3 separate regions of the Homo sapiens genome follow, and all the other regions are linked to region 3. The links come from fine-mapping of genetic effects on gene expression. A gene starts in region 3. Each other region holds a variant in brackets. All regions are shown on one strand. Distances are between the middles of the regions. Region 1 has its middle 29 kb from the start of MYH16. Region 2 overlaps ATP5MF-PTCD1 (ATP5MF-PTCD1 readthrough). Region 3 holds the start of ZNF655 (zinc finger protein 655).

The links. PIP is the estimated chance that this variant, and not a neighbour inherited with it, causes the effect.
Region 1: its variant is the best candidate, but not a certain one, in a credible set for the expression of ZNF655 in blood mononuclear cells (TOPMed, PIP 0.55).
Region 2: its variant is the best candidate, but not a certain one, in a credible set for the expression of ZNF655 in whole blood (INTERVAL, PIP 0.50).

Annotation. Positions count from the first base shown.
Region 1 is chr7:99,238,601-99,249,355 of GRCh38, reverse strand. It overlaps a transcript of MYH16 not described here. Among named protein-coding and RNA genes, the nearest start is that of MYH16, 29 kb to the left of the region's middle. The variant T/G (reference allele first, on the strand shown) is at 6,056.
Region 2 is chr7:99,448,560-99,457,947 of GRCh38, reverse strand. The region is part of intron 2 of ATP5MF-PTCD1 (ATP5MF-PTCD1 readthrough); the gene reads left to right. It overlaps CPSF4 (cleavage and polyadenylation specific factor 4), which reads right to left. Exons shown (of 8, transcript NM_006693.4): 4 at 7,577-7,672; 5 at 7,153-7,246; 6 at 5,508-5,580; 7 at 3,812-3,982; 8 at 575-1,516. The coding sequence ends at 1,448. Among named protein-coding and RNA genes, the nearest start is that of ATP5MF, 13 kb to the left of the region's middle. RefSeq lists enhancers at 1,424-2,226, 5,341-5,901. The variant C/T (reference allele first, on the strand shown) is at 5,781.
Region 3 is chr7:99,550,461-99,561,215 of GRCh38, reverse strand. ZNF655 (zinc finger protein 655) reads right to left here and starts at 2,574. Exons shown (of 3, transcript NM_138494.3): 1 at 2,429-2,574; 2 at 521-683. The coding sequence starts at 656. It overlaps LOC105375422 (a long non-coding RNA gene), which reads right to left and starts at 9,051. Exons shown (of 3, transcript XR_927801.4): 1 at 8,732-9,051; 2 at 7,585-7,691; 3 at 5,259-6,480. FAM200A (family with sequence similarity 200 member A) reads left to right here and starts at 9,102. Exons shown (of 2, transcript NM_145111.4): 1 at 9,102-9,362. RefSeq lists enhancers at 2,500-2,769, 2,800-2,929, 9,356-9,545.

The DNA.
Region 1 (10,755 bases), 310 kb after region 3:
AGGCTGGTCTCAAACTCCTGGGTTCCAGCGATCCTCCTGCCTCAGCCTCCCAAAGCCCTGGGATTACAGGTGTGAGCCACCACACCTGGCCTCAAAGGTACACACTTCTGTTCGCATTTTGCCCCCTAGCTAGGACAGACAGGCAGGTGGGGAGGTCCTGGGGACAGGGAGGCCACCCTGTCAGTTTAACAGGTGTAGCCTCACCCGCCCCAAAGCCCACTCACTGCCTGCAGAGTTCCAAACAAAGTCCCGCAATTAATTCTAAGAAGGCTTAATTGTATGTGTAAGACACAGGTCTAATTATATGTGTATAGACAGAGATGGAAGAGACACTTACGTGATTAGCATAGACTGATTCTCACGATCTGTAGGGAAGAAAACAAGAAACAGGAAGGTGTAATTAGGAACATTTAGAAACTAGGCATTCGACAATGCCCCAGCCAGTCAGCGCTTCCCCAAATTCCACCCGGCTTAGATCGTGGCCTTGGCTACACTTGGAGGCCAAAATTCAGGATCCTGTGGGATCTGTGGCCACGTGCCCATCCCTGCAGTGTACACCCTTGCAGAAAGGATCAGGAATTTATCAGCCACTCTTTCTACCAGCCCAGAGTGGCCATAAAGCTACCCAGTCCTAAGCAACATAAAGAGAAATGAGGACAAAAATCACAGAGGGCTGGACAGCATGACTCATGCCTGTAATCCCAGCATTTGGGGAAGCTGAGGCTGGAGCCCAGGAGTTTAAGACCTGCCTAGGCAAGATGGTGAAACCCTGTCTCCACAAAACATTAAGAAATTAGCTGGGCATAGTGACGCATTGCTATAGTCTCAGCTACTCAGGAAGCTGAAGCAGGAGGATTGCTTGGGCCTAGAAGTTCTAGACTGCGGTGAGCTAAGATTGCACCACTGCACTCCAGCCTGGGCAACAAAGAACCCATCTCTTAAAAAAAAAATCATGACTGGGCGCAGTGGCTCACGCCTGTAAAGCCAGCACTTTGGGAGGCCGAGATGGGTGGATCACCTGATGTCAGGAGTTCAGGACCAGCCTGGCCAACATGATGAAACCCCATCTCTACTAATAATACAAAAATTAGCTGGGTGTGGTGGCACATGCCTGTAATCCCAGCTACTTGGGAGGCTGAGGCAGGAGAATTGCCTGAACCTGGGAGGTGGAGGTTGCAGTGAGCTATTGCACCATTGCACTCCAGCTTGGATGACAAGAGCGAAACTCTATCTCAAAATAAAGAAAAAAATCACATAGAGGAATCACTATAACATGCAGCAAAGATCATAGAGGTAATGGTTAAGAGTACTGAGCTCTGAGCAAGTTACTTACCTACTTACCTTGGCATCCCACGGGTTTGTGAAACTTAAATGAGATAGGGTGTGAGGTAGGGCTGGTGCCTAGCAAGTGCCCAGCACACTCACTGAGCCCTGGCACCTGGTAGCAGCAGCTGCTGCTCAAAATTTAGCAAAGAACTTCAACTGGTAGTGCAGGGTCAGGGTTAGGATCGGGTATCACAAGGTCTTAATGCGTCTGGAGCCGCAATGGCAAAGGAAGGCTTGTCTCCCGCCACCCCTGCCCCAGCAGAGCCCACCCCGACGCACCCATAAGCATGTCGTGGTAGGCGTTGTCAGAGATGGAGAAGAGGTGAGGCGGCATCTCTGTGCGCTTCTTGCCCTTGTACATGTTAGCCACACGGGCCCCGTAGATGGGCAGCCACTTGTAGGGGTTGACCGTCACGCAGAACAAGCCCGAGTAGGTCTGGTGGGAGGGAGGGAAGATGGTCAGCTGATTTTTCCTCCTGGTACCCTCTTCCCCCAGCGGAGTTCCCTTCAGGCCCCAGCTTATCATAGAGCAAGCTGTGAAGAAGGCAAGCTTTCTGCCAGGTGTGGTGGTTTATGCCTGTAATCCCAACATTTTGGGAGACCGAGGCAGGTGGATCACCTGATGTCAGGAGTTGGAGACCAGCCTGACCAACATGGTGAAACCCTGTCTCTACCAAAAGGACGAAACAATTAGCTGGGCGTGGTGGTGCACGCCTATAATCCTAGCTACTTGGAAGGCTGAGGCAGGAGAATCGCTTGAACCTGGAAGGCAGAGGTTGCAGTGAGCCAAGATCGTGCCACTGTACTCCAGCCTGGGCAACAGAGTGAGACTCCGTCTCAAAAACAACAAAAACAACGAAACCCAGCCTTCTGGAGGCAAAATCTTATGACTATCTGAGTCTGTGTTCATTAAGCTAAATGAGGCTTCTCTTTAATATATATTTGTTTTTGTTTTCTTTTGGTTTAATTACAGACACTCCTCAACTTAGGATGGGGTCACATCTAGATAAACCCATCATATGTTGAAAATATCGTATTGAAAGTCGATTTATGATATTTTCAACATACGATGGGTTTGATCATAAATCGAGGAGTGCATTGAATGTGTATTGCTTTTGCCCCATCGTAAAGTTGGAAATCATTAACTTGAACCATTGTAAGTTGGGGTCCATCTGGATTTGAATAGGTAACACTGTCACTGTGGTAACATATATACTGCAGAAGGTCCCTCCACTTGCTCCATGCCCACCCCCACCCTCACCACAGGTAAATGCTGGGCTAGTTTCTTTTACTCCCTTCCATGGTTTTTTTTATTTATATATATTTTGTGGATGGAGTCTCACTCTGTCACTCAGGCTGGAGTGCAATGGTGCCATCTGGGTTCACTGCAACCTCTGCCTCCCAGATTCAAGCAATTCTCCTGCCTCAGCCTCTTGAGTAGCTGAGACTACAGGTGCACGCCACCACGCCCGGCTAATTTTTGTATTTTTAGTAGAGATGGGGTTTCGCCATATTGGCCAGGCTGGTCACAAACTCCTGACCTCAAGGGATCCACCCACCTCAGCCTCCCAAAGTGCTGGGATCACAGGTGTGAGCCACTGCGCCCAGCCTATAGTACTGTTTTATATCTTGCTTTTGCCACTTAATATATCTGGCTTTCCTTGAGAGTCTATTGAGAATTTCTGGGGTGATTCAAAAGCTGTGGAATCTTCACTGTGTGGATGCAGTTCCCTGCTTGTGGCAGCTGGGTTTGACCACCTGTTTTTTACCTGTTTTTTTCTTTCTTTCTCTTTTTTTTTTCTTTTCTTTCTTTTTTTTTTTTTAGAGACAGAGCCTTGCTCTATCACCCAGGCTGGAGTGCAGTGGTGCCATCATAGCTCACTGCAGCCTTGAACTCCTGGGCTCAAGCGATTCTTCCACCTCAACATCCCACGTAGCTGGGACTACGGGCATGTGCCCACTAAGCCTGGATAATTAAAAAATTGTTTTTGTAGAGACGGGAGTCTTGCCGTGTTGCTCAGGCTTGTCATGAACTCCTGTCCTCAAACAATCCACCCACGTTGGCCTCCCAAAGTGCTGGAATTACAGGCATGAGCCACTGCGCCCAGCCTTGACCTACTCTTAAAAAGAGACCCCAACTTTCTTTTCACTCCAAGATTGCAATTTTGTAAGAAATCACCCTGTTTTAAAAAAAAGAACAGAAAGGCCAGGCGCAGTGGCTTACACCTGTAATCCCAGCACTTTGGGAGGCTGAGGCAGGCGGATCACAGGGTCAGGAGTTCGAGACCAGCGTGACCAACATGGTGAAACCCTGTCTCTACTAAAAATACAAAAATTAGCTGGGCGTGGTAGCGCAAGTTTGTAATCCCAGCTTCTGAGGAGGCTGAGGCAGGAGAATCCCTTGAACCCGGGAAGCGGAGGTTGCAATGAGGTGAGACTGTGCCACTGCACTCCAGCCTGGGCAACAGAGCGAGACTCCATCTCAAACAAACAAACAAAAAACCCCAGAAAAACCAATTACATCATTAAATAAATTAAGAGCAGGAAGAATGAGTGAAGACAGGAAATGGCCAAATCTATGAATCTTAAATTTCTCTTCTCCTTGCTGGACAGTCACATTGACCTCTAAAGCATCCACCAAGTACTTGGTTTCAGTTCAACTTTAAACCCTTCCATTTTGAACCAAGTAAGAATAACTGCTCCCTATCCACCCCTGTCCCTGCCACCAGCTCCTCCTTAGCATAACTGGGATATGTTGAATTTTCAAAAGGAAACTTATTAAGTACAAACTGATCCACAGGAAAAAAGGCAAAGAGACGATGAAGGAAACCCAGTGGAACAGCTGAGAGTATGACACACAGTGTCTCATCCTGGGACACCAGCCATGGAGTCACTCTTCCCCTCCAGCCTGTCTCAGCCGTGGGGTGGGGGCAGACAGCATCCTGGAAGCCAGTTACCTCCCTGCTGTGGTCAGGAGGAATTGAGAGAGAAGCAGCTGGGATCATGGGAGCAGCCCTTGCCAGCTAGAGTTGTTGCATTAGTGGCTCTATTGAGGCGCTTTAATGTAGGAGGGGACTCCCTGCCCTGGTCTCTCAGGCTATACTCCACAAAGCCTGCAGTCCCTTGGCCCAAAGTCATGATGTGGTCACCCAGGAGGAACAAGGGCTTGCGGGCAGAGCAGCCCCAGGTAAGCCCTGGTCCTGAGCTTGACCTTTGAGCCTGTACCTTGACATTCTCAGCCCAGGCTCTAGGTTCAGCCGGGGGTGGGTGTGGCTCTTTCTAGACCTGGGGTTCAAGGATGCCCTGCTAACTTCCAGACCTAGCAAATATCTTCAAGAGATTTCAGAGACCTTCCAGCAACACCTGGGGCTATGGTACTACTGGGGCCTGAATCTAGAACCACAGTAGTAGTATTAAAGGAGGATGAATCTGGGGTCACAGAAGCCCTCTTGACTATAACCATAGACCCAGGGAAGGGGAACCCCCAGCAGCTCCTGACCTGGGAGTCAGGCTGCACCTCACCTATTCCTACCAGATAAGCCTCTTTCCTTTTAAATAAAGACATCTAGAGAGGCAAACACCAACACGTCCTTAGACAACCCATTTTGGGAGTTAAGCTGCAACACCTTCAGGAAATCATCTTTCTGTCTTAAGATTTCAAAGACACTCAGGGGACTGATTGTAACTCACTCTGGTCATCATGTCAGACAAAGTGAAACTGAATTTCTTCAAGGATGCAGTTGGTTGTCCTTCCTAAGTGCCTCAGGCTACAAGTCACATTTCCTCAATGTTTGTTGGATGGATGGGTGGATGAGTGTTTTGATTAATGAATGAATGGATGGATATTTGGATGTTTGGATGGGTGGATGAGTGGATGGATGGATGGATGTTTGGTTGATGGATGGATGGATGTTTGGATAGGTGGACGAATGTTTGGATGTTTGGACTGATGGATAGATGTTTGGACGTATATATGTATGGATCGATGTTTGGATAGGTGGATGAATAGATTGACGGATAGATGTTTGGATGGATGGATGGATGGATGGATGAATGTTTGGATGTTTGGGTTGATGGATAGATGTTTGGATGGATGGATAGATACTTGGATGGATGGATGGATGTTTGGATGGATAAATGTTTGGATGGATGAATGTTTGGATGGATGGATGTTTGGATGGATGGATGGATGAACGAATGGATAGATGGATGAATGGATGGATGGATGGATGGATGAATGAATGGATAGATGGATGAATGGATAGATGGATGGATGGACTTCTAATAATGGCACATGAAGTCACTAGGGGAAAAATGATGTTTTGATTTGAGAGTTTGAGGAAGAGGGGAGGAACATGAGGAGGAAGATTTTCGGGTGACAGCCTCAGCAAAAGCTGCTCACGGAGATGGTGCCATTACTGAGATGCCGAAGGCTTTGGGTGGAAATTCTAACATGTCAGAAACGTGGTCCCTGTGCCTTTGTCTAAGTCATAATGTGTACTGGGAGCTGGGGAGGGTGGAGTAGCCAACCCCCTCCTCAACAAAAGAAAAGCAGAAGATCTACAGCCACTCCTTCCTCCCCCCACTCACCCCATCCCTGGCACTCACATAGATCCTCATGTTGGTGTAGCGTTGGCGCAGATTGTCTAGGACACTGGCCTCATTCAGGAAGGTCATGTCTGCCATGTCACTGGCCTGGTAGAATTTGGGTGGGTTCATCTGCTGGATA[T/G]CATCCTTCTTCACAGTGAGTGTCTGGGGGGGTCAAGACACAGCAGCACAGGCATCAGGCATGGGGCATGGGGCATCTGGCCCAGGTCACCACATACCCTCTGGAGTCCCAGGAGATGGAGTGGAGCATCCAGTGGACCCAAGTCCTGGTCCAGCCACATCCCCCTGTGTGTCCTGGGATGGGGAGGCACTTCTGAGGCCAATGCAGCTTCAACTGCCTCCTCTCTGAAGTTGAGATGACAGTAGCCTCCTTGGCAGGTTGCTGGGAGAATTATATGAACTTAAGTGGAATCATGTAAAAATACCTTAAAAACTATGACGTTCCCTCCCTATGTTACAGAGACCTCTGGGCTCTGCTTCTCTTCCAGCCAAATCCATCCTGATAGATGATCAGAGCTTATTCTTTGATCCCATGGACACTTTGCAGAGATGTGACTCTTGGCTCTCTGCCTTGAGAGTTAGCGGTGATTTCGAAATAGCGATGAGCTTTTCCATTTCTCTCTCTCTTTTTTAAAGACTAAGTGCAGTAATGAGAAGGGTGGGGGGAAGAGTGGAACAAGGATTTTGATCTGTAACTGACCATGCACAATCAATTGAGATAACTCACTACCTTCAGACCAGCCAAACTTTTCCTTTTTAAATTTTTAATTTAATTTTATTTTTTGAGACATAATCTTGCTCTGTTGCCCAGGCTGGAGTTCAGTGGTACAGTCATAGCTCACTGCAGCTTCAATCTCTTGGGCTCAAGCCATCCTCCTGCCTCAGCCTCCCGAGTAGCTGGGACTACAGGTGCACACCACCATGCCTGGCTAATTTTTAATTTTTTTTTCTAGAGACAAGGTCTTGCTATGTTGCCTATGCTGGTCTTGAACTCTTGGCCTTCAATGATCCTCCCATCTTGGCCCCCAAAAGTGTTACAGGTGTGAGCCACCACATGTAGCCACTGTTCCACTTGAAAAAAAGACATTCCCCTGCTCCCTCCAAGCCACCTTCAAGGATAAAATTGAAAGCAAGCAAGAAAAGAAGAAAAAAAAGAAACCAGCAATGAGCATTCATCAGTAGGTGTGTTCGCGCCCGTGCCATGTGGGCAGATCTCTTCCCCATGCTGCACCCCAATTTCTTCATCTATAAATGAAAACTAGGCCGGGTGCAGTGGCTCATGCCTGTAATCCCAGAACTTTGGGAGGCCGAGGTGGGTGGATCACCTGAGGTCAGGAGTTCGAGACCAGCCTGGCCAAAATGGCGAAACCCTGTCTCTACTAAAAATACAAAAATTAGCTGGGCGTGGTAGCGCACACTTGTAACCCCAGCTACTTGGGAGGCTGAGGCAGGAGAATCACTTGAACCCAGGGGGCGGGGGTTGCAGTGAGCGGAGATCATGCCGCTGCACTCCAGCCTGGGTGATAGTGCAAGACAAAACAAAACTAAACAAAAAAAAAAAACTAGTGCCAGCTCTTAAGAAGCTCCAGCATCTGGGATCAAAGCTGAAGACATACGATCTAGAAAACAAATACCTTTTGGCTGCCTGCAACCTTAGATGTGAGGCCTGAATCCATACTGGGATTTCTGGGACTTTTAATAACTTATTAGTACAATAGGCAGATAATTTGAAATCTTGACAGTTCTGGAAAATCCACCCCCACTCCCCGTAATGGTTACCACGCCCTTAGTAAACCAAGCTGTTTTTTGTTTGTTTGTTTTTGTTTTGTTGTTTTTTCTGAGACAGAGTCTCACTCTGTCACTCATGCTGGAGTGCAGTGGCGTGATCTCAACTCACTGCAACCTCCGCCTCCTGGGTTCAGGCAATTCTCCTGCCTCAGCCTCCCAAGTAACTGGGATTACAGGCGCAGGCCACCATGCCCGACTAAGTTTTATATTTTTGGTAGAGATGGGGTTTCACCATGTTGGCCAGGCTGGTCTCAAACTCCTGACCTCAGGTGATCCACCCTCCTTGGCCTCCCAAAGTGGTGGGATTACAGGCGTGACCCACCATGCCTGGCCTCAAGCTGGGTTTTATTCTGAATTCATTTCCAGGGGTTTCCAGATCTCTGGTCCTCGTCCACGTGCAGACACTTCGCTTTCAGCAGAGGAATGGAGAACTTGGCCTTTATTTTAGGAGCCAGGGAAGCCAGCGCCACAGGCTCCATCTTTTCTGTCCCAAACCCGGCTGGCCGGCACTGTCTGCTGCAGATACTCAAGGAAATTGTGTTGTCCTTAAATGTGGATCCAAACTTAGATGCACCCTGGGGCTCCACTATCATCACCCATCACTTCTCACGACACTGCAGCACTCTCCTCTCTGAAAACTGTTTCTCCTGGGAATTAAGCTTGACTTTCGTTCAAATCCATTTCCACCCAACTATATCTTTTTACCACTGCTCCTCTCGAAGACAGGCGCAGAGAAAAATACAGCTGTTGCCAGTTCTGATCACTGAGGTCTCTGGCTTCCTTTTTTTTTTTTTGAGACAAGGTTTCTGTCTGTCACCCAGGCTGGAGTGCAGCAGTGCAATCCTAGCTCACTGCAGCCTCAGCTTCCTGGGCTCAAGCGATTCTCCTGGCTCAGCCTCCTAAGTAACTGGGAGTACAGGGATGCACCACACCTGGCTAATTTTTTGTAGAAACGGGGCCTCGTTATGTTGCCCAGGCTGGTCTCAAACACCTAGCCTCAAGCGATCTGCCTGTATCGGCCTCCCAAAGTGCTGGGATTACAGGCTTGAGCTGCCGCGTCTGGCCTCTGACTTCTTTTAATCAAGAAATTAACCAGGAATGGACCTCGCAGGTGCTAATATATTTATTGCTGAACACACATTGCTCTGTTTTTTGTTTTTGTTTTGTTTTGTTTTGTTTTCTTTGCTTGCTTGCTCTCAATTTTATCCTTGAAGGCGGTTTGGAGGGAGCAGAGTAATGTCTTTTTTCTTAAATGGAAAAGTGGCCGGGTGCAATGGCTCATGCCTCCCTCTTGGCAGCCCACCATGAAGGGATGGAATGGTGACATAGAAGGGGCATGGGCATATGAGCCAGATACAGTGGGTTTGAATCCAAATTCATCATTTGCTATTTTTGCAACGTACACAGGTCACCTAAAGTGCCCTTGATCCTCAGTTTTCCTTCTCTGCAAAATAGGGTCAATAAATCCTACCACATAAGATTGCCAAAAGGATTAAACAAAGTGTCAAGTGCCTCACCAGGGGTCTGCCAAGAATACAAGAGACCCTGCCCTTACCCATTTAAAATAAACCAAATTAAAAAAATTCTAATAAAAATTGTTATTATTTTCTAAAAATAAAGATAGGGTCTCACCAAGTTGCCCAGGACAGTCTCAAACTCCTGAGCCCAAGTAATCCTCCTGTCTTGGTCTCCCAAAGTGCTGGGATTACAGGTGTGAGCCACCACGCCTAGCCTAATAAGCCAAATTTTCTATCCATTCTCTCAAGTCATATCTCATAGTCAGACGTAGTGTGGGCCAGCAGAGAGAAGGGTGGGTTGGTAAACCAGCTGTCTGGGGGGAAGTGTCCCTGATTTACAGCATATTCCCATTTCCATGGTATAAATACTTCCATCACGGCTGATAGCAAGCTACCCAAGGTTTAACAACTGGCTGTAAAATCCCTCATTGTTTAGTGTTGGGGTCTTTGCAAACCATCACAAGCCAGGTTGGATCCCTGCAATCCACGATAAGCCAGGTTGAGTCCCTGCAAGCCATCATTAGCCAGGTTGGGTCCTTGCAACACGTTAAAAGCCATCGGAAGCCATCACATCCAGCACACCACCCCCATGCTCCAAGAGACCTGGGAACCACCATCTGTTCTTCATGCAGCTGAAGAGCTCACCCAGTGAGCCAGGGTGTTCTGTGCCCTCTCTCATGGCCCTCATGCCACCAGGGGCCATGGCACACAGTGACACTGCTCATAAGTGACATGCTCACTCTCATGCTTAGAAAATAGCTTCCACTTGAGAGCTGTTTGAGACATCAAAGATAAGTAACTCTCACGATCATCCCTTACGCACGGTACTGTCTTAGAGTCTATGAAGTGCTTTCATGTGATCTGTCTCGGAATCTCTATTGTGATATAGCTCAGAGAGGGAATGCGTCTTGCCCAGGGCCACACAGCTTGAGTGTAGGCGAGTCTGGATTTGACCCCAGCACATGGGACTCGGAGGCACCTGCTCTTTCTGCCACCCTGCCTTCTGGGCGGGAGCATGCCTAGAAAAGGCCTGGGTGCCTGCCACTTGGTTTCATCCTGGAGATCGTGCCCCACTCACCTGGTTGGTGATCGTCTTCACGGTGACTTGGTCACCCTGTTCAGACTGGATCTCCCCAGCGACGAAGCCTTCCTTCTCATCTTTGACCCAGCAGGACCTCTTAATGTCATAGGGCTTGTTCATGGCTTCAATCCTCTCCTTTTCAGGAGGTGCCAGGAAAGGCATAGGGTCCACATCGTCCCCACACTCCCCTTTGTACCCACCAGGCATGGTGGCTTGGTTGAGGATGGAGCAGGAAGGAGCTGAGGGCAGGAACCAGGACTTCCCTGGGTGCTGTAGGGGGAAGCAGAGACAAGCTGCTGAGGCTCACAGGCTGAAGTCAATGTCCCGAGAAAGACAGAGGCTTGCTTCTCTCATGTCACCTTGTCTGTCTTGGTGCTATTAGGCTTTCATAACCAAGAATAAGAAAGAAGCTAATTGTTCAGCCACTGTAGAAAG
Region 2 (9,388 bases), 100 kb after region 3:
CATTCTGGCCTTTAGTTGGCTGGCCCTTTATGGTGTAACACAAAGGCTTGCGTACCTGAGAGCGCCAGATCCCACCCCGGCTGTCCTGTGGCTCCAGGCAGGGATGGCCCGCATCCTGTGTTTCTGCATCACCCTGGGGCATCAAGGGCTACAGGGTGAGGTGACCCGGCACTGTCTGGAGAGACCTCAGGCAGCACTCACGCCCAGGCTGCAGGGATTGTGGCCCTCCGGCTGAGGCGGCTTCTCTAACAGGAGGCTTAGTGGGTTGGGGGTGATGGGGAAAAGTGAGGGGCTATGGCGGCCCCTCCCTGCTTCCTCTTCATCAGAGCCTCATTGGGGGTGGGATACTGTGCCCCAGAAATAGGTGCCACCAGACATCTGAGCTGAGGTGGAGGACCTGCCTGCTGGCTCCACAGATCAGACTCCCAGACTTGACCAGCTGCTTGCAGGCCTTCTGGGCAGCTGCACTTCCCTTTGTGAGGCTGACATTTGTTGAAAGGGACAAGAAAGCTACGCCGTGATTGCAGCCAGTGTAAAAGGGTTGGCATGAGACCCTTAATTAATGAGACATGGCTTAAAAAACAAGCTTTAATCCATTTCATAAAAATTGTTCTTGCAATTGAACACAGCCAGGCCCACATGCCCAGCAGGTTGCAGGAGACAGTTTCACATTTTCCAGGCTCAGGACAGGGCAGTCTCCTCCACATGCCACAGGTGTCTGAGTGACAGTGTAGACGCCTGATGGGCAGGAGGTAGGCACAGATGATCTGAAGGGGTCATCTATTTAAAAGTCTGCAACTCCAGTTCAACGGACACCTTAAACACTGTCAGGCACGTACCCCAAGAGAAAATTAAGCCCAGAGAAGAAAACCTCAGGCTTGAGAGCCCTGTACCCCTCCTCAACCGCTGCCACCTGGGACCAGGGCCAGCCTGAGGCAATGGGGGCACCTGAATTTGCCCCAAAGGGCTCCCTCATTCAAATCACAGATATAGGCACAGCTTTAGGATTCAGCAGGGCAGGGAGGGAGGAAGCAGGCGTGAGCTGGCCACAGCTTTGAATGACCTACCAGCCCCTGGCGTCACCAAGAACTGGTGTTTAATGAGGGGAATGACCACCGCCACACAGAACTACCTAGCCAAGCCCCTCCCCAGCAGCTGCCTCCCTCCCTGGATGAGGGGAGTTGTGCCGGGAGTCCCAGAAAGGAGGCATCGATGCCCAGCCAAACATGATGTCGACTGCAGGGACCCACAGGACACATGTCCCTTTTTCAAAAAATACTAAGGCAAAATGATAGGAAACTAACAGACGTGGCCCCTCAGAGTGATGAAACCCACGTGTCTGCGGGCCAGCTCGAGCCACAGTCGCGCCAACAAGCGCATGAAACAGTTAAATGCACACTCCCAACAGCGGGGCCCCCGGGCTGCTCGGAGCTGGCTCCAGCTGCTGTCACTGTCCACTGAGAAAGGCCAAGTGCCCTTTGGTGCATCTGTTGGCGTAGTGTCCTTTCTCGCCACACTGGGAACAGCAGGAAGTGGGGGAAGAGGAGAGACAGACAACAACACTGTTCAAATGCAGTTTTCAACTAAGGGAGTGCCCACCAAATCCCAAATCATCCACCAAGTCCCCAGTCGGGACATGACTCTGAAATTCTCAGTGGTACAGAGTTTCTTTCAAATTAGAGGGTGAGGGAGCTCAGGATGGAAAGTGCAGTGGTGCAGAAACTAGCCAGCAACTCCGCAGATGCAAGGGAGAACAAGGCCGCCAGAAGGCGACCTGCTAGCGACCTGCTCTTTCAGGCCCACAACTCTCCCACCTGGACACATGGCCTGCCCAGGGAGGGACTCCCAAGTGGGTAGCAGGACAAAGAGAAGCCCGTGGCACCTGAGCTCCGCCACCCCGTCTGGGGACCAAGCCCTTCTGCACCACAGGCCAGTCACTTACCTCTGAGCCAAGGTCTGGGGTTCCCTGGCAGGAGATGGGAGGGAACAGCATCAGAAGTGTCCCAGCCTCCCCTCCCTTGGGGAGCCACTGCTGGGGACAGAGGGTGGGCTGTACCCAACGTTTTCCCTCGTGGCTGTGACACACCTAAGCTACCTTGGGGACAGGTTTTGATTACAGGATCAGAGAGATGGGACGATGCTTAGACTTGGGTAAGGGGAGCCTGCAGAGCCACATGACAAATCCAGCCCTGACCCTGCCTCATCCCAGTCCTGATTATCCAGGCCCTTCCATAGCTTCTCTTTACTCTATGACTCCTAAAACGGCAGCCTCAAGCACTGAACAAAAGGGTCAGGAGGCAGCTGGGGGCACTGACTCTGTACTGACACCCACCCCTGAGTCCCTGCTGCCCTGAGGGGCTCTGCCCAGTTGGCACCCAACACTCTTGCCAGCTCTATTCCCTGGCTCTGCAATTCCTGTTTTCTTTCTTCTATGTTGGCCAGGATGGTCTCGAACTCCTGACCTTGTGACCTGCTCCCCTCGGCCTCCCAAAGTGCTGGGATTACAGGCGTGAGCCACCGCACCCAGCTGTCCCTGTGTTTTCAACTTTGTCTGATCTGCAGGTGTGACTCTGTATGGAGAGGCTGCCGATGGGCTGTAGGGCTAACATGATGGCTGGGGGAGGGACCACACACCCTGCTCACGGCATCTGGCATGTCTGTCGGACCCCACAGCTGACTCTGGGGAATCCAGGACTTACATGAAGTGTCTCTGACATTAATGGGGTGACAGGCTGTGGACAGGGGCGGTCAGCCCTACCTTTCTAAGGCTCCAGGACTTAAGGGCGCTTGCTGCACAGAAGTGGCCCCGCTTAACAGGCCTGGAGGGTGGCAAGATAACAGCTAAGTCTGCTCTACACAGTGCCCCACTTCCATGCTCTTTTATTTTTTTGGAGACAAAGAGTCTCAGTCTGTTGCCCAGGCTGGAGTGCAGTGGTGCAGTCATAGCTCACTGCAGGCTTGACCTCCTGGGCCCAAGCAATCCTCCCATCTAAGCCTCCCCAGTAGCTGGGACTACAGGCGTGCACCACCACACCCAGCCTGTTTTGTGATTTTTAATCTGGACTCATTCTTCAGAACTCCAGCTGTAGGAATTGTGTGCGCCTTGGGTTGAGAACATACTCTTCAAAGAGTACTGGGGGTTACTCCTGCCACGTGCCAGGGACACACCAATCCTGGGGCGATTTTAGATTAGAAAACTTAGTTTGTAACTTTCCAGCCTTAACCAAGGACATGAATACAGGCCTAGACTCACATAAGGGCCCATTAATAACGTCAAACTATCAAGAGATTTTCCTCCCCTTTCCCCGCTTCCCACAGAGCCAGGAGTGAACAGGACAGTTTTCGAGGAGGTTTCTTGAAGCTCACCCTTCCTGAGTCCCATTTTATGTACTGGGGGAGGGGATGGGGACAGGGGTGCTGTAACCCAGTGTCCTGTTTTCTCGGGTGTGCCCTGCAGGATCCAAGGATGCCCCCAGGACAGCCAGCGGCTCCAAGGGCTCACCCTTCCCTGGATCAGTGTTTCTATTTTGTTCCCGGCCTCTTGGGGGCTTCCCTCACCTGCCTGCAGGCCCCGTCCATTCACTAGGCAGGCGTTCTCACCATCCTTTACCGTGCCTCAGTGCAGTGTGGTAGGAAATAGGACAGTCTCTAGCCCACCACAGTGGATGGTAACTAGACTGTAACTTTATGCTTACAATCAGCAAAAATGAATGTTTTCATTTTTCTCATTTCACCAAACACATGGGGCATGAGGGAATGGCCACTGACGGTAAGGGAAGACCCCACCCTGTCCCCCAGCCCAGGGACTCACCTTGTAACAGGTGACCTGCTCCAGTGGCCGGGGTCCCCGGTTGCCCGCGCTGCTGTTTTGACTCTGCATGACCCCGATGACCTGCGGGGTTCTCTGCTGATTGGGAGAAGAGTTCTGACTCGTTAACTGGATCAAGGAGGACGACCTTTGTAATGGCGGATTGTTACTTTGCTGGAAAGAGTTACACAACACGGTTTTACTGTGGAAAACACGTGCACGCAGACTACCGATGGGGACAGGAAAAAAGAGGGCGGGACTCGTCCCGCAAACGGCAGGAAGCAGGGCTTCCACGACGGCCCACCTCAGGACAGTGGGCAGCAGAGAAACATGTGGTGATGATGGCAGAAGCCACTGCCCGAAAAACACCATGCAGACACACAAAAACGAAAAATAAAATAGAAAACAAAACATCAAAGAGACAAGAGGAGGTCTCTGGGGCAGTGGGGCGAGGGCATGATCAGGCCTTACTTTGGTTTCTGAGGTTCTGGCTTCAGGTCAGGATGAACGCTTGGTTCAGCCAGATGTTTAGCAGCCTACACGGCGAGCAAGTCACAGAAAAACAGTTGGAGCCTGACACACTGAGCTGCGTTCTCGGGCTGAGAGGACCCTCCTCTAGGGAGCCCCACCAGGAGGAGGGCCAGGGCTCCTGGGGTAGGGATTCCACAGCAGGGCCTCCTCCCCACCAGGTGGGCTCCTGGCTCTGGCCCGTAAGTGCAGAACCCGAGCTAGAAAACCCCCAGGTTGGCACGGCTGCACCTACACCTGGAATTCCCGGCTTTCCCCATCAAGAGTTCAATGTGATTGGCGCCTCCACGCAGCTACATCCTCCGCATCCTCTCCTGGCTGTTCAGCCTCTAGCACTGAGCGGGGCTGGTGGGGCTTTGGCAGCCAGTCCAGAGCCCAGCAGGGTAGGAGGTGAGGCATTGGGCTCAGGAGGTGGTTGGGCTTGATGGGCCTGTTGGGAACCCTGCCTGATGCCCGCCCTGCCTTGACGCCAGCCCTTCCTCTTGGCTCAACTCCCGACTCCCATAACCAAACTCAGGGTGCCCTTGGCATTGAGAGGCTGCTGCAGATCCCCATGTGTCTACAGCATTTCCCCCTCTCCTTGTGCTTGAGGGGACGGACCAGCTGCTTGGCTGTGGGGCCCCTCATCTAGAAAACTGGAGCCAGCCGGGCCTGTTCTCGCGCCTCCTCCCAACCTCCACTCCACAGGAGCAGGGGCGGTGCTGGCCAGAGTGGTCAGTTCTGCTGCCACACCTGCTCCTGCCCAGTGGTGTCACCTCAGGCAGGTCCCTCCCTCTGGTAGTCTCGGTTTCCCTATTTGCAAAATAAAGGGTCTGACCCAGGAGCAAGAGCAGCAGACACGGTGCCCAGGCCGCCCTCCATGCCAGCCCCAGGGGCAGACGCTGCTGAACCAGGTTAGCCCCATCTCACAACGGGTGGCCAGTTGCACGGCGCCTGGACTGTGTCTGCTGCTGCGCTTGGCCTTGCTGAGGTTCTAGGGCAAGAGGCCCTCCGTCTCTCGAGGGAGATATACACGGCTTTGCTCCTGACTTTTCTTCGGGAACTTGGGAGACTCCCCTCCTCTCCCAAGTTGTCCAGCGGGGTCTAAGGCAGACCACACCCCTGGGGGACACTGAGGTTCTCGCTGTAGAAAAGGCACTTCCTTCCTACCGAGGAAGGCCAGGCACGGTACCTTTGCTGGAGGCTGTGTCTGCTGCGGCAGTGGGGGCTGCTCGGTGGTTCCCATGGGCAGTTCAAATCGAGGGCTGGTCACCAGCAGCCAGAGGGGATGAGAACAAGAGAAGGAGTGGGGTCAGGGGATGAGAAGAGAAGCCAGGCCATGCTCTTAAATTCCAGCCCTAGGAAAATCACACTCAGCTGCCCCAGCACAAAGTGACTGACACAAGCTGCATGGATGGGGTGGTGGCTGGCACTCAGCTCTGCTCCTGGGAGGCCACAGGAGTGG[C/T]GGGGAGAACAGAACTGACTTGCCTGGGCTCAGACCCAACCCTGCCTACACCGAGCTGGGAGACTCATGGCCAGTGCTTCTCGGAAATGACAAAGGCTGTGCTGGTGCGTGCCTGCTGCGCCACAGGAGCTGTACACAGGGAAGCCCCCCTCCCCGCAGGGTCTTACTCTGGCGTCAGCCCCTCCTCCCATCACTTGGTGACGGTCTGCCCCTGAGCCACCTGCAGGTGCCTGCACTCTCATTCAGGGAGTGAGACCCAGTGACAGCACCGGCCACTTCCCTGCAGTGAGAAGCAGGGACCAGGGTTCCCACAGACCTGGAGACTGTTATCCTGCTGTAGGTTCAGCAGTGTGGGCGAGGCAGCCGGGAGGAAGGGAGGCTTGTCTGTGGCCCCAGTGCCACCCCAGGCAGAAGCCCAGGTCCACAACCAAAGTGACAGATGGGCACTGGGCTCCAAGGACAAGAAAATGGAGCCACAAGAGGGGTGCTAACCCCACAGAGCAAGAATTAAAACCCGTCTTCGGAGGCTCACAGACTTGCTATTTATTTATTTTATTTATTTAGAGATGGAGTCTTGCTCTGTCACCCAGGCTGGAGTGCAGTGGCACGATGTTGGCTCACTGCAACTTCCACCTCCTGGGTTCAAGTGATTCTTTTGCCTCAGCCTCCCAAGTAGCTGGGACTACAGGCACGCGCCGCTACACCTGGCTAATTTTTGTATTTTTAGTAGAGACGGGGTTTCACCATATTGGCCAGGCTAGTCTCGAACTCCTGACCTCGTGATCCGCCTTCCTCTGCCTCCCAAAGTTATGGGATTACAGGCGTGAGCCACCACACCCAGCCCAGACTTGCCTTTGACCAGGTGCCACCACCTGCTACCATGTGCCCTTGGCCAGGGACTGAGCCCTGTGCCTCAGTGTGCTGCTGTGTGAAATGGGTGCGTTCTCTCCTACCCTCACTGTTAGACGACTACTTATTCTATGTGAAACCCCAAGCTCAGGGTTTCCTGAGCCTCCACATGGGAGGCTCTGAAATTCTTTCCTTTAGGGCACAGGTTCTTAACTGGAAGTCCCCAAATTCCCTAAATGATATGCAAGGCTACATGTTTGTCTGTATCCCACAGCTTCCATTACATTACCAGATGGCCCATGACCCAAGAAAGATCAGCTCCTGGTCTAGGCAGAGCCACCTGCGGGCTCAGGAAGCATTGGTGGCCATAAGCAGGGATTACTTCCCCATCTCCTGCCCCCACCCTTGGCCCTGGTACTGACATCACCCAGTGACCAAGGCCCAGTTGGCCCAGGGAAGATACGGAGGGCAGCAGGGCCTGGGCCGGGAGCTGGGGTAGAGGGCGGAGCAGCTGGCTACTCACTGCATGAATTTACACGAGGGCCCCTCCGGGCAGAATCCCACGAGGTAATTCACACAGATGACTCTCCGTGTGTGCCGGTGCCTGCAGAGGGGACCTGCAGAGCCAAGTGTCCGGTCACTTAGATGTCCCCTCTACCAGTTAGAGAGCTGGAGCATGGTTTCAAATGCTGGCTGTCCCCCATTCATGGGAGACGGGGCAGGGACCTCACCTCCCAACACTGGCCTCCTTATCAAAAAAGCGGGTGGACCACCACCCACCCAGCATTCTTGGGAGAGGCAAGGGAGATGAGGAGTGTGAGAAAGCCGCTAGCTGCAGAATGTCAGGTTTTGCTGGGACAGGTAGACCAGCTGGCAGCCTCCAGGGTCGTGGGCAGAGAAGGGAGGACTGGCTTCTTGCCCGGGGCCCAGCCCACCCTGGCACCTACCGTGCTTGCAGAAGCCACGGTCATACCAAGGACAGTCCTTGATCTTGGACTCGGGGTCGATGTGCAGGAAGGGACATTCCTTGTTGCTGCACTCCCCTGCAGGGAAACTCAGACGTGAGACCACTGGGAAGGCCGGGGCCAGGCCCACCTTGGCTTCATCCAAGGAAAAGAGGTTCTGGTGTCCAGTTTTGGCCTGACGAGCCCTGAGAGCCAGGGAAGAGTGTTTCTGAGCCCCAGCTTCCTGTGCAGCGGAGCTGTGATGGAAATGCACCCATTGAGACCAGGAAGTTCCATTCTGATTGGCTCTTCACATCTAAGAGCTGGGACAAGGGTAGGGGAAGCACTTGTGGACCTGGCCCTCTCCAAAGCAGCGGACCCCAGGGACCACCAGCACCAAGAACCGCCTTCCTGAGTAGTTGCCCGCTTCCAGGCTCACCTTCTCCAATCCATGTTTACAACTGTGCTCAAAATCCAGAGGAAATGCAAACTCCTTCCCCAGGCCCCTCCGCAGGCTCAGCCTCTGCCACCCCCCAGCCACATGGGTCCCCCTGTACCAGGACCAGCCCCTTCTTAGTCTTCCGCTTCCAGCTCAGGAATCCCCTCATCCTTGACCACTCAGCCTAGAGAAGGTTCTGGTCACGGTTTCCTTCCTTCAAAGCACTTGTCACAAGCAATTTCTTCTCTGTTCGTCTCATGGCCTATCAGCTACCTCTTTCCCTGGACCACAAGAGTGAAGGCTTCACAGGGCAAGGACCTCTTCACCATTGTCCCTCCAGTGCCTGGAAAGGGGGCCCTCAACCCAATGTCTGTGGTGCAGGTGACAGAAGCTGCAGACAGTGCGTCCTGCACCAGGGCTGTCAGCAAGGAAGGAGCGACCCTCAGGCCACTTGTATAGCGGTGCCTTAAGAGCCTGCCCAGGAGAGCCAGCTGCTGCCTCTGGGGACAGATGGGAGGCCACTGCCCCATCCCAGTGCTGCCCCAGTGCTGCTATGGGCAAGGCATCGGGGGGAACATGCTACATTGCACAATGACAGGGACAGCACTTGGGGAGCTGGGAAGCTTGGGTCCTATTTCTTCTCAGCTTATGCCACCTCCACAAAACAAGCCACAGCTCTCATTGATAAGCCAGCAGGCCACGCCTGATGGGATGCTGAAATAATTAATGTCTCCTCCAACAGCAGTGCTTTGAAAGCATGAAGCATACCCTGCACTCCCTGGCTCCCTGCAGGATTCCAGCCTCCTGCCGGGCTCCCTGCACAGGACCAGAGCCAGCCTCACGCTGACCCACAGAGCTGCTTCCCGGGAAACCTGGAAGTGCAGACCTGAGCGGGGACCCTGGGGACTCCTTCCAGCAGGGAGCACATCTCTGCCAGACTCCGTGCCAGCCCCACTGACTCCACCCGGGCTCCCGCTTCTCCACGCAGGCCACTCAGGACAGCTGAGGCCACGCATTCTCTAAGCAGGGCTCAAGGCAAGTTTGTTGCTACCAGAAGACACATCTGAGGCTGTTATTTTGAAGGGCTATTTAGGATGGCTGAGATGTCACCAGGATCATGGCTCCTGGAGAGAAGGAACCAGCTCGGGCCTGAGAGGCAATGCCCACGCTGGAGGGAGAAGTGGGTTTCAGGGAGAAGGTGGACGTGGACAGAAACCAACCACGGACATAATGCAGCCAGCTGCACAACTCGCTGCTTCCGGGTCACCCTCGTTAGCCTCAAATCCGAGTGATTGAAAGAGCTCCAAACACTGAAGCACTCCAAAGTGATGCGCGGGGCCAGGCGTGGTGGCTCACGCCTGTAATCCCAGCACTTT
Region 3 (10,755 bases):
AGTATATATACATTCATACAGGCATTGTGTTCAACCAAGGAATTAAATGGTTGCTTCCTTGACCAAATTTAGTCTAGTCACAAAACACTGCAGTTACAACAGAATGGATGGCAGGTGACAAAGCAAAGAAAAACTAAGTGAAGGGAACAGGGGAAAGAAAGGTCCTGAACCTAAGAGGAAGTGAGAGCCAGGAAAGGACTGTGAGATGTGGCAAAAGCAGCATATCTTAGAAATTATTCTGGATGTGAGAACTGGGATGAAGTGAAGGTTGCCTGAAGGAAAAACCACCACAGCGAGTAAGCAGCCATCACTCTGCTTATTTGAGAAAGATGAGCTATCCTTAATAAAGGGGCTCAGACTAGGACTGAACTGAGTCACATCTGCCCCCTCTTTCATTCCTCCCTCTAGGGACCATGTTCTTATTCCAGTTCTTGGCCTCTCTCAAACCAGGCCCAGGAGCCCCCTCGGGAGCCCCTCCGCACTCCCACTCTCCCAGACGGAAGTGCTTTCTCTGCCTTACCCCCAGTGAGTCCCTGTTCCATGTCGGTGTCCTGCACAAACTGAGGCTCTGGGGACAGACACTCAGACTGGGTCTCCAAAGACTGAAACTGGACCCTTGGTGACCCTGCTGCTTCCTGGGCTGGTATTTCCTCCATCACTGCTCTGGAGGACAATGACCATCACTGCAAGGTAAGATTAAGAGAAATTACTGTAATAAGTTAAAGCATTTCATCATTTTATATCGTCAGGACTTTGCAAAGGATCTTACACACTATGGATATTCAATAAAAATTAGTTGATAATGATTAACCACCCTAAATAAGTAACAGAAAAATGGGGCCAGGCGCAGTGGCCTGTAATCCCAGCACTTTGGGAGGCTGAGGCGGGAAGATCACTTGAGGTCAGGAGTTCAAGACCAGCCTGATCAACATGGTGCAACTTCTTCTCTACTAAAAATACAAAAATTAGCCAGCGTGGTGGTGCGGGTCTGTAATCCCAGCTATTCGGGAGGCTGAGGCAGGAGAATTGCTTGAATACAGAAGGCATACGTGGCAGTGAGCCAAGATTGCACCACTGCACTCCAACCTGGGCAACACAGTGAGACTCCGTCCCAAAAAAAAAAAAAAGAAAAAAAAGAAAAAGAAATATGGATATGCTTCAGCTTTAAATACTTAAGAACCAAATCATAGAAGAGTCTCTAATTTGGAATTTGTGGCATTAAAAAAATTAACACGGTACAATTTAATAGTGTAAAGCTTTCTGTGGAAACTTTAAAATATTTAAAATTGGCCACGTGCGGTGGCTCAAGCCTGTAATCCCAACAGTTTGGGAGGCACAGACGGGTGGATCCCTTAAGCTCAGGAGTTCCAGACCGTCCTGGACAACATGGTGAAACCCCGTCCCTACAAAAAAAAAAAAAAAAAAAAAAATTAGGTGGCCCAGGCCTGTAGTTCCAGCTACTCCAAAGGCCAAGGCAGGAGAATCGCTTGAGCTTGGGAGGTAGAGGCTGCAGTGAGCTATGACTGCGCCACTGCATTCCAGCCTGTATGACAGCGTGACAGCCCACCTCAAATAAACAAAACAAAATATTTAAAATTTACAATCGTCTTTGGAGGCTCAAGTTGGTGCCCAGAGAAAAATGCTAGTTATGATTGCTCATTTTATTTTAATTTTGTTTTAGCAGAGATGGGAGTCTCGCTATGTTGCCCAGGCTGGACTCGAACGCCTGGCCTCAAGCGATCCTCCCACTTCGGCCTCCCAAAGTGCGGGGATTACGGCGTGAACCACCGTGACAGGCCCGCGTTTACGTAAATAAACTCATTTAAATAAATAAAACAGCAGGCCCCCTAGGAAATGTCTTGGTAACACCGTCAGCCCACTCCGATTTACTACACGGGCTTGGCGAATAAAACTCCACTTTTGGGGTCAGGCCCTTCGCTAACTCAGACCAGCTAGACCGGCCTTTTCCCGGAATCCTGAGAGCAACGCAGGTAAGAGCTGCGGTTCGAACAGGTTTGAGCGGCGTCCTTCAGGCCCAAGGACGCATGAGGGTGCCGTCCCCCTCCCACCACCCTCGCCCTGGGCCCCTGCCCGGCTCCCAGCTCGGTCCTCAGAAGGCCTTGCCCGGCGCTGCCCTCCTCCCACTTCCCTTTTAGGCCAAGGCAAAGTCCCAAAAGGACCAGTGAGGACATACAGACCAGCTCGCACCAGGGCACGGTCGCCGGCTCCTGACGGCGGGGCCCTCGGTCCGCGAGGTGAATGAACCAGGGCTGAAGAGAAACAGGCCCTCCTCGCACCCGGGCCTCCGCGCACTCTCGGGGAAGCGAACTACCGTCGGCCGCGGCCGGACGCCGCCTCCTTCTACTCCCGTGAAGGCAAAACAAGCTGCCACCCCGCTGCGACCCCAAAACGGCTTCCGGGTACTCACCGAGGGGAGGGGCGGGCCTGGCCGCTGTCCTGTCACCTACACACTCGCGCTCGGGGCCACCACAGCCTCTCCCGGGCCGCTGTAGACAGCCCCGAGGCCGGCGCTTCTCGGTGGCACTTCCGGCGACGGAGTGCAGGGTCCCGAATGAGGGCCCCCCCTCCTCCGCCCAGGCATGAGGGTCCCGGATGTGGGTGAGAGCCCCGGATGAGGGTCCCGGATGTGAGTGAGGGCCCCGGATGTGAGTGACGGCCCCGGATGAGGAACTCGGAGGAGGAGCTGGGCCCGCGCGTCCATGATTCGAAGGCTCGTTTTCGCAGCTTTTCCACGTCTTTTTCCGGTCCCACTGCCCTCCATGCTAACTCACTGGGCGTCTCTAGCCGTTATACCAACAATGACTGCGACCAGTGTTGGGAAAGCGCCCCCTGGGCCCCTCCCTGACGCCAGCCCATCCTTGAGACTCCCTGCAAGGAGGCGGCCCGACCCAGTGGGTGCGTGTCGTGGGGTGAGGAGGAATGGCCGACCTAATGGTCCCGCTTCCGTGAGTAGCACAGGGGTGCCTGCTCAGAGTGTAGTACAACGCTGACAAGTAGAAGGCGAGGATTGCGGGGCCTGGGTGAGATGGGACCCACTAAGTTGTGGGATCGAAATCTCAGTAGGTCCTTGGGGAAAGCGGGGACGGGAGGGGAGATGAGCAGATTGGAATAGAACCGAGAGAGACGGAGGAAACTGACAGTTGCGTCCCTGGTGGGAAGACTAAAATCTATGCAGAAACAGGGATAGGCAAAAGCATTGTGCACAAGCGGGACAGGCAGAGCGCCGGGACAGAAACCCTTAGGACATTCTGACACCTTGCTGAACCTGGATCCTTACAGAATATGTCTTGTAGGTGAAGCTAGATCTGCAAGGCATAGGCAAGCCTCTTAGAGAATCAGAAAAGTGATTTGGAAGGAACTTCAGCTGTTACTACTTTGTTTAAGCAAATCAAATGCTGTTCTTTAATGTTACTGGACGTTTCAAATTAAACACAAGAAAACCTGAAGTGTGGCATTTTATATATTTTTTCAAAATGTATCAGCTTCTTGGAGATTCTGATATTCCTTTCCTCTCTTTATCCCTAAGTATCATTTATCCAACCTAAATTCATACTAGGACACAATCTCTCTAGTCTGCAGTGCCCGTCACAGTGGAGTCAGGATCGGAGAAAGAAAATGCACTGCTTAGTCCATTTCATGCTGGACAGCTCCAATTAGAAACTTTTCCTTGTGTTGAACAGAAATACACCCCTGGTGATGTCTATCTATTGTTCCTGTTGACAGGTCCCCAGGACAATAGATGACACAGTACTTCTTCCTCTTCATAACGGCCATTTTAATATCCTAGGAGAGCTAAAGGTTTGGAGTTCTTCCTGAGTTGCCATTTCCCCACCTAGAACCCTTCACAGGTTGTACCTATTAGCAATGTGATGGGAAACCATTTCAGCAGCAAAGGTGAGTGAGCTATGGCAGTGAGGCACATCGCGTCCAAGTTTTAGCTGACTCAGGCAATTGGCTCCAGTGAGAGGACCACAAAAGGTACCCACTTAAAGAGGCCACTTCCCACCAGTACTCATCAAAACATAACAAAGTGTTAAGAAACAGCAGCTGCTATTTTGCTTTTGAGCAAAATTTTCTTTTAACAGTTTGCCAGATGACAGAGGTGGAAACAACTCAAAAAATTGTTACCTTTTTTCGTTTTTGTCTTTTTGTTGTTGTTGAGACAGAGTCTTGCTCTGTCGCCCAGGCTGGAGTGCAGTGGCGCGATCTCAGCTCACTGCAACCTCCAGCTCCCAGGTTCAAGCATTTTCCCTGCCTCAGCCTCCAGAGTAGATGGGATTACAGGTGGGCACCACCACACCTAGCTAATTTTTGTATTTTTAGTAGAGATGGGGTTTCACCATGTTGGCCAGGCTGGTCTCAAACTCCTGACCTCGGGTGATCCGCCCGTCTTGGCCTCCCAAAGTGCTGGGATTACAGGCGTGAGCCACTGCACCGAGCCTGTTTTGTTTTTTTTAGTGCAAATTAACAAACTGATTCTAAAGTTTATATAGAAATGCTAAGGATTTAGGATTGCCAAAACAATTTTGAAAAAGAATAAAATTGGAATACTTGTATTTTTTTAAGATTTTTTTCCTAAAGGTACAGTAATCAGGATGGTATGGTATCAGCATAGAGACAAATAGATCAACAGAGCAGAACAGAAAGTCCAGAAATATGAGGTTGAATTTCTTAAAGAAAAAAAAGTCCAGAAATAGATCTAGATACATACAATAGCTGATTTTTTATAAATTACTAAGGTAATTCTGCATCTAGCTAAGCTGAAAATTAGGCCGAGGATCTGTTTGTAACAGTGACAGTAATGTAAAGGAGACCAATTGTGCAGACTCGGCAGGTCCCCTGAGTCAAAGTCGTGGCTCATACAGGGAGAGGGTGGGATCCTGAGACCTGTTCTCTGTCACAGTGTAGTCCGCAGGAACTTTACCCAACCATCATGATGGTCCATATATTGATGACAAATGCTAGTAGTACCCAGTGAGCAGCAAGTGACAAGGGTCATAAATATCCTAGTAAGACTTCTTACTAAGGCAGTACAGAAACCTGAAGATATGGGCACTTATCAAATGGATGAAGTTTTGGTGGGGCCCAGTGGTTTGGGGACATCACCCAAAGGTAAAAGAAAGTTGTTCCACCTTGCACCCTCTAATCCCAAAAAAATTGGTACAGGTCCTGGTGGGCCCCTTTGGATTTGGGAGGTAGCATATTCTGCACCTGAGAAAACTGTTCCAACACATGTATTAGGTGACCTAAAAAGCTTCCACTTTTTATTTATTACTATTTTTTTTTCTTGACACGGAGTCTTGCTCTGTAGCCCAGGCTGGAGTACAGTGCCGTGATCTCGGCTCACTGCAACCTCTGCTTTCTGGATTCAAGCAATTCTCCTGCCTCAGCCTCCCTAGTAGCTGGGATTACAGGCGCCCGCCACCATGCCCAGCATTTTTGTATTTTAGTAGTGGAGGGGTTTCACCATGTTAGCCAGGCTGATCTTGAACTCCTGACCTCAAGCAATCCACCCACCTCCGCCTCCCAAAGTGCTGGGATTACAGACGTGAGCCACCATGCCTGGCCAGCTTCCACTTTTTATTGGGGCAAGAGAGCACTCTATAGTAAATCCAAGCAACAGTGCAAGCTTACTTGCAAATTCAGTGGTTCCAGAAATATCCTTGATGGATACAGGTGCTGTATGGAGTTGCTGGCAAACCCCAATAAGAGTGTGCATTCGTGTGCTAGGGCTCCTATAACAAAGTACCACAAACTGGGTGGCTTAAACAACAGAAATCTGTTGGTTCACAGTCTGGAGGCTAGAAGTCAGAAATTAAGGTGTGGTTCCTATTGAGGCTGTGAGAAGGAATCTGTCCATGCCTCTCTCCTAGTTTCTGGGGATTTGCTGGATATATTTTGCATTCCTTGGCATCGTAAGAAGCATTTTCCCAGTCTTTACCCTCATCTTCATTTGGCATTCTCCCTGTGTACTATCTCTAAACTTCCCTTTTTTATAAGGATACCAGTCATTAGATGAGGGACCCACCCTAATCCACTATGACCTCATCTTGAAGTAATTACATCTGCAATGCCTCTATTGCCAAATAATTTCACATTCTGAGGTATTAGGGGCTAGAACTTCAACCTGTTAATTGGGGATGAGGTGGAGGTACAATTCAACCCATCATAAAGAGTCACAGCACAAATACCTAAGATTCTGGAGCAAGGTCATGCCTTCTAAGGCAAAAAAACAAAACCCACGTTTCCAAACTCCCAGGTCAGTTACCTCTGCTCTACTGCCACCTCTCCCATAAACTTACTCCTATGGCCTTATAAAAGTTCCCTACAACTAACTGATGGAGACAGAAGAGCCTTGGCCTCTGCACAGATTGGGGATTGGGTCAGTTCAGCATGTTGGCATCTTCCAGAAACAGACTGTTCTTCATTACAGCCCCACTCGCGTTGCCCTGAAGCATACTGGTGAAGAAAAATTATCTCAGTGAGCAATGGTACATTTGGTCACCCATGCCATATTTTGGAGGAGGTAGCCTAAGGTAGGGATATGCATTGACTCCTAGGCAGTGATGAATGGCTTGGCTTGTTGGTTAGGGACCATCTTATTGTTTATGCAATAGGCTTATGAACAGAGACCATGGTAGCAGGGATAGAGGCTGTGCGTGGTCCCAACAATATGGGCTACCTCTTATTTTTCTTTTTTTTTTTTTTTTTTTTTTGAGACGGAGTCTCGCCCTGTTGCCCAGGCTGGAGTGCAGTGGTGTGATCTCAGCTCACTGCAGCCTCCACCTCCCAGGTTCAAGCAATTCTCCTGCCTCAGCCTCCCGAGTAGCTGGGACTACAGGCACACACCACCGTACCCAGGTAATTTCTGTATTTTTAGTTGAGACGGTGTTTCACCATGTTGCTCAGGCTGGTCTCGAACTCCTGAACTTGTGATCCACCCACCTCAGCCTCCCAAAGTGCTGACATTACAGGTGTGAGCCACCGTGCCCGGCCAATATGGTCTACCTCTTACCAAGGCTGATGTAACTCTCACCATGGTGGAGTGTCCAGCCTGCCAGCATTAGAGACCAACACTGAGTCTTAGAGATACCAGCTACCACCAGGTTGAGTGCATCAGATCCCTTTTACCTTGGAATGGGCATCAATTTGTTCTTACCAGAATTGATATATGCTCTAAATGAGCTTGTCTTCCCCAACTACTTTGCCTCCAGCAGCACCACCATCTGAGAGCTTACAGGGTGCCTTATCCATTGACATACCTGAAACTAAGGAACCCACCGATAGCCAAGGAGGTGTGACAGTGAACTCGAAGCTACAAAATTCATGGTGCATACTCATCATCCAGAAGCAGCTAGCCAGATAGGGTTTTGGAATGGCCTGTTGAAGACTGGGCTAAATTGCGATTAAGATGTAATGCCTTGCAAAGTTGGGAGCAGTTCTTCAGAATATGGTATATGCGCTGAAATGCATTGGGCCAAAATGGATATATAGTATTGTGTCTCCAGTAGGACTATGTGCATACAGGAGTAGCCTCTATTACTATCACACCCAGCCACTCACCTGTAGAATTTGTGCCTCCTCGCTCCGAAATCTGGAGCCAGCTGGGTTATGATCCTCATTTCCAGGAAGAACATTTCCTCTAGGAAACATTAAATCGTGCCACTGAACTGAAAACAGAATACCACCAGGCCACTTTGAGTTTCTTGTGCCAGTAGGTCCGTAGGCAAAGAAAGGAGTCGTTATAGAGATGCCTACAATTCCTGCCACACACACAACATAAATACAAAATCATATACCCAGTCAACTGCATTCAGTAATCTGCCTTCCTGGACCCTTTAGGCACTTCAGTGTAGGAATGGGGACGGGTGGGGAGGAGAGACTTTAGACAAAGAAGAAAAATACAGTGTGTAGCAATGTAATGACTCTTAGCGATGACTTGGAACCCTGGAAGGAAATATGAGGATGTATCTGGAGGAATAAGTTGAGACTATGATGTCATCACGGAGGACTGTAGGTTAGAAAGCCAGCCAGTGATAAAGGAGCAAAGATTGGATTTGACGGTGCCCTAGGAGGAAAAAAAAAAAAAAAAAAATATATATATATATATATATATATATATATGTGTGTGTATATATATATATGTGTGTGTATATATATATACATGTATATATATGTGTATATATATGTGTGTGTATATATATGTGTGTATATATATATATGGAGCAAAGATGCACTTAAGTGGATTATTGAGAAGACTCGTGGGTAGGTAGAAAATGGCAACCATAGCAAGATCAAACCCCCTAAGGAATGGAGCATTAGTGAGGGTCTAGAAGGTAATTCGGGATACCACGTAATCATAGGCTCTGTATCAGGTAGCCGTTCCTTTTGTAGGCTTTTATCTTATTGGGCTGTACCACAGACTTGCCCAGAACTTTTAGAGTCATGCCCCAGCCATTCAAGGTCTCAGTTACTGTTTTATAAAAGGTGAAGTTATTCTTGATCTAATCATAGAAGCCCTAATTATTACAATAACACTTGGACAGCAAAAACGCCTCAAATTCAACTTATTTCACCGTTGCTAATCTGAAAACTCCCTGGAAACATAAGGCAAACTCAGAATTTTATAACTATCTAGTGTTGGAAAGAACGTCTGTTGCCTATAGATCAAGTATTTGAAAATACTGCCCATTCAACTGGCAATACGTACATAATCAGCGTCTCAAGAGACAATCCCTTCGATTTGTGAAACCATTTATTCTTGATCTTCCTGTCTCCACCCTCGTTTCATTCAGCTCCTCTGCCACAGACAATCACTATTTTTATTGTAACTATTACAATTATTGTCATCAAGAAAAATAGAAGGAACATATAAATATCTGAGCAGGGCGGTATAAAGGGAAATTCATCCCTTTTTCCCCGCCCTGTGCACCTCCTCGGAGCGGACAAGCTGAGGAGCAAGATCCCCAAACCCGAGATTAGAGCCCTACACAGGGATGCAAAGTCCTCCCGCGATCCTAGAGAGGACCCCGAAGCGGAGCGCAGCTCCGGAAGGCGGGTGTGACGCACTTCCGGCTTTTGTGACGCTTTCCCTGGGCTCTGAAGGCCAGGGGGCTTGGATGTGAGTCTAGTGCTCCTGGTCCCCAAAGTCACAACCCCTTCTATCCCAGCATCCCAGACTTCTCCGGGCGGGGACAGAGTTGGACGTGCATGGCTGTGTCCTGCAATCCCCTCGCCACGACCGCCCGGGACGGAGTGGAAGCGGGTCCGTGCCCCCGTTCCTCGCGCCAGCCTCGGCGGTGGCAAGCGCTGTCCCCCAGCAGAGGTGTCCCTGGATACAGGTGGGAAGGGAACGAAGTTTTGGTTTCCGGATTGGAGACACCCCTGGGACTGGAGAGAGGCGGTCTGCGTGTCCCTTCTGGACCCCCAGTCCTGGTGTTTTACCCCAAAGACGCGCGGACAAAATGACCCCAGTCAGATATCTGTGCTCCCCAGTTGTGCCCACTGGTTTTTCTTGTGGTGGGGGCTTTTCTGGTTTCCTGGGTACCCCGAGTTGTAAAATTCTGGCGATCTTACACGATACCAAGTGCCATTGGCCTTATAATTTGTTTTATTCGGATGGGCTCGTTAAGCCAGTGTCCGCGGATGATATGTTCACCCTCAAACCCAGTACCATTATGGTGGTGATTAGAGTGAAGGCCGGGCGCAGTGGCTCACGCCCATAATCCCAGCACTTTGGGAAGCCTAGGCAGGCGAATCGTTTGAGGCCAGGAGTTCTGAGATCAGCCTTGCCAACCTAGAGAAACCCTGTCTCTACTAGAAATACAGAAAATTAGACGTGGCGGCACACGCCTGTAATCCCAGCTGCTTGGGAGGCTGAGGCAGGGGAATCGCTTGAACCCGGGAGGCGGAGGTTGCAGTGAGCCAGGATCGCGTCACTGCACTCCAGCCTGGGAGACAGAGAGAGAGAGTGAGACTCTGTCTCAAAAACAAAAAAAGAGAATGTTTGAAGCCTACTGAATAAAGAAGTGATTTGGATATAATAGGAAAAGCTCATTTACACTTCACCCTTTCCTTTCAAGACTTTAGGAAGGGGTCTTTTTGTTTCTTTGGTTGGTTTTTTTGTTTTTGAGACAGAGTCGCCCAGGCTGGAGTGCAGTGGTGCGATCTCGGCTCACTGCAACCTCCAGCGCCCGAGTTCAAGCTTCTCCTGCCTCAGCTTCCTGAGTAGCTGGAATTACAGGCGCCTGCCACCATGCCCGGCTAATTTTTGTACTTTTAGTAGAGACGGGGTTTCGCCATGTTGGCCAGGCTGGGAAAATGAACTCCTGACCTCAGGTGATCCGCCCGCCTCGGCCTCCCAAAGTGCTGCAATTACAGGGGTCAGCCACCACGCCCTGCCAGGAAGGGTTTTAAATGAGCAATTTCGGACATGGGGGGTTTTCAGTTGTGGGAGGTATCTATGCTTGACATCGAGGGATAAAGGAGAGAAGGGAATTTGTGGACGGTGCAGCGGACCATTGGGGACTGGTACCAGTTCTGCCATTGATGTTCTTGGATGAAACACATAGACCCACCAAGTCTCAAATGTGTCCTAAGTAAAGTAAAATAGATTATCTCAAGGTCTCTTCCAATTTTGGAATCTGCCGATAGACTGAATTTAACATTCAGCTAAGCAAAACCTATGGCCCCACATTCATTTCCATTTGTGCCACCAACATACAGAAAGTTACT